2 linked regions of the Homo sapiens genome follow. The protein of the gene in region 1 purifies or fractionates together with the protein of each later gene. This does not show direct contact. Each region holds a gene or a part of one and is shown on either strand. Other genes may lie near its edges.

Region 1 (2,755 bases):
TCTCTTTGAATAATGAAATGCAAATGCCTTTTAGCAATGGCAGCATTCAAATCCCACAAAAAATCAAGCAGGGCCCCCTTAAGGAGTACCTCCATTGGCACAAACTGTAAAACCTGCTGGGGTGAGTCAGAGTTGAGCAAAGTGCTCAACAATTCATTCACACTCTGCAAATATCGGAAAACTGGATTTGGAAGGTCCTGATAACCAACACATAGCAGGACTGCGCAGGTCCTCAGGGGATCAGAGGATGTGGGACAAACAAAAGTGATGAATCTAAAACAACTGTGGAGTACAAAGATCAAACCAGCCATAAATCTTGTGAAGCAAGAAAGTACAGGCAAAATCATAACATCTCCTGTATGAAGCTCCCGCAATGAATGTAGAAGGCAGTCCAAAAATAAACGCTGGTAAGTTGGATCTCCATCATGAAGCAATGAACAGCTAAAAGTTGTGAGTTCAGCTGATTCTAGGAGTCGAACTTCCAACGGTATATGCATTTTGATATTACGGAGAGTCGAAAAGCCCACCAGCAGGCACTTTATTTGATTGCTGGGTACTACAACCTGCTCATCCTGAAGGCACTCAGTAAGGCTACACAACTCGGAAAATATCAGTTCTTCAGAAAAAACATGACAAGAACAAGAATACTGCTGTTTTGGCCTAAACTTGGAATCCAAATTAAAAGCTCCTCCTAATGACTTTTCAATTGCTTCATTAAGAGTTTTTAAAATTTCACCATTGCAAAAAGGAGAACATTTTACCTTTGGCAGTTTCTTTCCCTCCAAAATATGCCATAAGTGACACTCAAGATTGGAAGCTGTTCCTTCTAAAATAGAACTCTGCCCAGGATGATATACACCATGTTCTTCAGCCCAACTATTAAAGTATCCTTTGGCTACTTTATCTTTCCATGAAAGGGCTTCTAGCATCTTCCTTTCATTATAAGTTTTAAAATATTTGTTCCTCTGCCCAAACCATTTTGTATTTGTACTACAACCAATACTAGATTTTTTTACTAGCCAATTATTTCTGGAAAGATGTTTCAGTTGAAATTTTTGCATAAAATATTGTATAGCACAATCCCTTAAATTATTCAGCTTTTCTTGTTCCGCCTTTCCCATGCACTCAAATAGACGAATGTTTTCAGAAATAGTCTCTAGCTGATATTTATGAAAGAACACACAACATTCTTCATGTCTCTTAAGAAAAGAATCAGGAATCACATGATGGGGAAAAAGGGCTTTCCTTTTCATTTCAGTCCCAAAATTCAAGGTCATCTTAGATAACAGAGGATGGATGGCCTCTCTCCCCTTATAGTGGAGGCAAACCACATAGACTTCGGAGTTTCCTGCCTTGCTAGTAGCAGGTTTGAAAACATGGACTTGGTCAAAACAACAGTTTAGCAGGTACATCAAGTTTATGGAACAATGTTCAAACATAGTAAACATCTTTAGAACAAAAGAGCCACCGTTTCCAAGAGTGGTCAGAGCAGTGACAACTTCACAGTAATGCAAAGAAGAAACTAAAGCTTCTTGTTCACCTGGGTTTCCTTGGCAATCAAAACTCCCATCTGCAGTGACCAAGTGAACAGTAGCCATGCTGCTTATGAAATTCTGAAGTCCAGTCAAGAATTTCAGGGTCATGATATCACCAGTGTTATCTGGACCAAAGTACCACCAGTGCAAGGTATTTGCAATAAGCCGGTCATCCATAATCATCATGAGGTCGTCATTTGCTTCATGGTATGGATTCAGAGTATTCGCTACCCAACTCCAATGACAAGGAAACCGATGGGATTTTAAGTAGTGGTTGAGACTAGCTATAAAAGCTCCTGGAGCTTCACAAAGGTGTAGAGAATTCAGTTTTCCATTCTGAAAAGCTTCCTGTGGAATAAGTGGAAAGCTGCACAAAATCTCATGGAACTTACACCATGCTTGAGTACAAAGTTCAGCATTCACAGATTTTCTAACATGAGAAATGATTTTCCCCGCTTTATTAGTGAAAGCAGTGTGCTCATGCCACTCATCCAGTTTCTTATCACTCAGTAGGTTTTTTACTTCATTTAGGGAGTTCTTCAAATCAAGAAATGCATTAAGTTCAGTGTGGTCACAGGTGAAAATCTCACTGGGATCTGGTAACTGCCACTCATTATTAAGTGGCTTGCCATAAGAAAAGTTCTTGGCAAAGAGTTCAAAAATGTCAGCAAGAATATCTGGGCTGAATGACGCGGGACTTGCTAGCTGCTGAACTGGTGTCTTTCTGCACTTACTCATTTTCAAATCAAATTAAAATCTAGGAAGAGAAAACACATAATTAAATGAATCAAATTTATTAGTGAGCGAAATCTCATGAGCAGCAAATACGATCACACTCATGACAAACTCCATAAAATGGGAAGGCTAAAGTCAGCATACTCTGTTATTTAACCAAGTAATCTGGAATAATGAAAAAGGCTTTGATATCCAAGACCTGGGTTCAAATTCCAGCTCTGCTAATTATGGCTTAATAAGCACCCTTGGGCAAATTCCATCTCTTGGATTTGGTTTCTTCTCATTAAAAAAAAAAGCCTATCATTTTTTAAGAAGAAGATAAAACATACTAGCATATAAAAAACATATAACAAAGCATAATCATCAGTGAATGACAGCTCTGATTATCATAGTAACCCATCTAACTCTTCCCCAAAGTTCTTCCCTACCAATGACTGTGACAACACCTACATGACCTCAAACAAATCCATCCTTAGAGATTCATC
Region 2 (3,500 bases), on another chromosome or scaffold:
TGGAAGGGACTAGGGCAGGTGGGGAGCACAAAGACAGTTGCACATATGGGTGGGACTGGCCAGATATGGTAGAAAGGGAACTTGAAGGAGCTCATAGCTGGTCTCAATTTTCTATCTGAAAATCCAGGGAAGGGTTTTAGGGGCTATGGACAACAACATGGGTGCCATTGTTCAAGGCGTGCCCCTTGAACAATGCAGGTTTGAATTTCAAGAGTCCACTTATATGCAAATTTTTAAAATAAATGTATTAGAAACTTTTTTGAGAATTGCAACAATTTGAAAAAATTGCAGATGAATTTTGTGATCTAGAAATATCAAAAAAAATTAAGAAAAAGTTAGATATGCCCAGGAGTTTGAGACCGACCAGGGCAACATAGCAAGACTGTGTCTCTACAGAAAAAGATGTACTTTGGAAAAATGAGAATGCACCGGCTGATTAGAAGAAAAGGGTAGCTCTGCAGTGCTAAGGGTTCTACTCACTCTAGAAACCATAAATTTGTTGCAAGGTTTGTGGATTTTTCTCCAGCAACACTGGGCAGCCAATGAGAATCAAGTGGTAAGAACTAGTATTATTAGAAGAATTATGAAATTAAAGCCTTCATTGGATACCTCAGGTCCTGATCAAAATGTAAAACTCTGGGGGATAAAAACTTAAATGAATGGGTAAACGACAGGAATGACCAGTGCTGCTGGCCTAATTCGGGTGCCTTCAGCAGAGAGGTACAATTCAAGTTAGTGTTGCTTGAAAGAGCACGTCTTGAGGACAGTTTCAGAGAAAGAAAGTTGAAAAGTGGCCCTCTGGCAAGTAGACTCTGAAAGGGCAGTGAAAGAATCCACACAGGAGGGCCATGTCCAACAGAAATGGAATTGAAAACCCAAAAGAAGAAGAAAAAGATCAACAGAGAAAAACAAAAGCCACTTAAGCTACAACTCATAAGAAGGGGCCCAGATAAAGTGCTGAAATGTGTCATCTTGGGAAAAGGGAGGATCTCACTTGCAAAGAAAGATCCCTTAACTCCTAAAGGGACAAAATAGTGTCCCACAGGCATATAGTCATGGGCTACTAGGCTATTTACAGAACCTGAAAAAGCCAGTGCAGTCCATAATAAAAAGACTATTTCAAATTTCAAAGACCAATGAAAATTGAGTTGTCAATTTTAATAGCTACCATTACTTGTGCCATGCAATGCATTTTACATTCTCGATCTCATTTAAACCTCACAACTTCCATGTAAAGAAGGAATTCTTATTCTCATTTTATAGATGAAGACACAGAGGCTTACAGGGGTTAAGTAACTTGTCTTAAGTCATAGAATGAATAAGGGGTTGAACCAGAAATCCAATTGAAATGTGTCTAATCCTAAAGACCATGCTTTTAACCCTTGTTCTCTCTTGGACTCTAACACTGTTTTTTCTTATGAAAACACAGGAGTGATGACTAGTTGAGTGCATTCTTATGAGACTCATAGTCATTCTATGATGTAGTTTTCCTTAGGAGGACATTTTTTACATGAAATTATTAACCTAAATAGAGTTGATCCTTGAACAACACAGGTTTGAACTGCGAGGGTCCACTTATATGCAAATTTTTTCAATAACTATATGGGAAAATATTTTTGGAGATCTGTGACAATTAGAAAAACCTTGAGATGAACCATGTAGCCTAGAAATATTAAAAAAAAAAAAAAAGAAAAAGTTACTCATGTCACAAATGCATAAAATATACATCAATACTTGTCTGCCTTCTCATTTACTACCATAAAATATAAACAAATCTATTACAAACAGTTAGAACTTATCGAAATGTCAAAATGTACACATACACACAAGAACTGTGCGTGATGCCATCTGCAGATGAGAGAAATGTAAACGTAAAGATTAAATCCTCACTGCACGAAATGAACTGTAGTACATACTGTACCACTGTAATAATTTCACAGCTACCTCCTGTTGCTATTGTGGTGAGCTCAAGCGCTGCAAGTATCTGCTTAAAACACCTTGTGACGCTAATCATCTCCACGTGAACAGTTCATCTCTCCAGTAAATTGTGTACCGCAGTTAAAAGTGATCTCTTGAGGTTCTCGCATATTTTTCATGCTTAGTGAAATACCATAAACCTTGACTAACACCATGGGACTCTAACAAAGTGCCACTAGAGATGCTGGAAGTACTCCCAAGTATCAGAGAAAAGTCATGACATTATAAGAAAAGTTGAATTGCTTGATGTGTACCATAGGTTGAGGTGTGCAGCTGTGGTTACCTACCATTTCAGTCAGACAATGTAAACTTACAGTATCAGTAATGCAGCACAGTTTTGCAAACGTATTTTCTCTTCCTTATGATTTTCTTTATAACATTTTCTTTTCTCCAGTTTGTTTATTGTTAAGTATACAGTATACAATACAAAATATGTGTTGATTGACCATTATCAGTAAGGCTTCTGGTCAACGGTAGGCTATTAGCAGTTAAGTTTGTGGGGAGTTAAAAACTATACACAGATTTTTGACTGTACAGGGGGTCAATGTCCATAACCCCCACATAGTTCAAGGGTCAACTATATTCTAACAAGTATTATATCTTTCCATTTGTTGTGTCCTACAGTGGGACATAGCAGGTACCAAATGAATGAATGGGAGTCCTTGGGCCTCGGAGAATGCTACACCAAAGCACTGAGATAATCTGTGGACAGACTGATGGCAGTGATCTTGAGGAATGAAGAATGAGAGGTTCAAGAACACCAAAGAGAAAGTTGAAGAAGGCAGATTCTACAGAGCACAAAGCTGTGAGCTTATCCAGGATGCAGAGCAAGATCCGGCCTTATTATTACTGAAGTGATGGTTAATGGGGCCCCACACCTACTAACCATCACTTCAGCACTGATCATTGAGATCCAGCACATACTCACTAAGGACAGTCATTTCAAACCAACCCACTGCCTTCTTTGCCTGGGCTTGCAGAAATACCATATGCCGCAGCAAGCAGCTGGAGCTGGGTGGTGGCTGGCCCTTCAGAAGACGTTCTGTGTTCTTCCATTCATCCATTTACAGCCCCTGGATTAGTTGACAGACTGAATGAAGGAATCAGGACTTTACAGTGAAATATAACAGGGATGAAAATAAGATCTTACACTTGGTTTCAAAAACCCAACTGAGTAAATCCAAGATAGGGAAGGCTGTGATTTAGGAGCAACAAATATAAAAATGTCTTTGAGTAAGCTGATAGCAAGCTCAATGAGAGATCACAGTGCGACGTGGCTGGCAGAATAGTTAGAGGCAACCTTAGCTGCATTAAAAGAACATTGTGTCTGTGCTAGAATAAGGGAGATGACAGTCCTAATCTGGGGTGGCTGGCTTGCACTACAACTGTACTATGGTGACTTCTGGAGAGCTCACTTCGAGCGGGTCTGGTAACAGGTTGATCTGCTAGGTATTCTCCATTTCCACCGTCCCCACTGTGATCTATTCTCTGCACTGCTCTGTGCCCTATGGACGCTGCCCCTA

The links.
Region 2: the proteins of CMTR2 (region 1) and PARVA fractionate together in Homo sapiens (co-fractionation; one large-scale study listed by BioGRID). This does not show direct contact.

What each region holds. Positions count from the first base shown.
Region 1 is NC_000016.10:71,283,648-71,286,402, forward strand, and holds part of CMTR2 (cap-specific mRNA (nucleoside-2'-O-)-methyltransferase 2), read right to left. Parts: intron 2,293-2,755; 5' UTR 2,274-2,292; coding exon 1-2,273.
Region 2 is NC_000011.10:12,380,571-12,384,070, reverse strand, and holds part of PARVA (alpha-parvin), read right to left. Parts: intron 1-3,500. UniProt on the Homo sapiens protein: Plays a role in sarcomere organization and in smooth muscle cell contraction. Required for normal development of the embryonic cardiovascular system, and for normal septation of the heart outflow tract.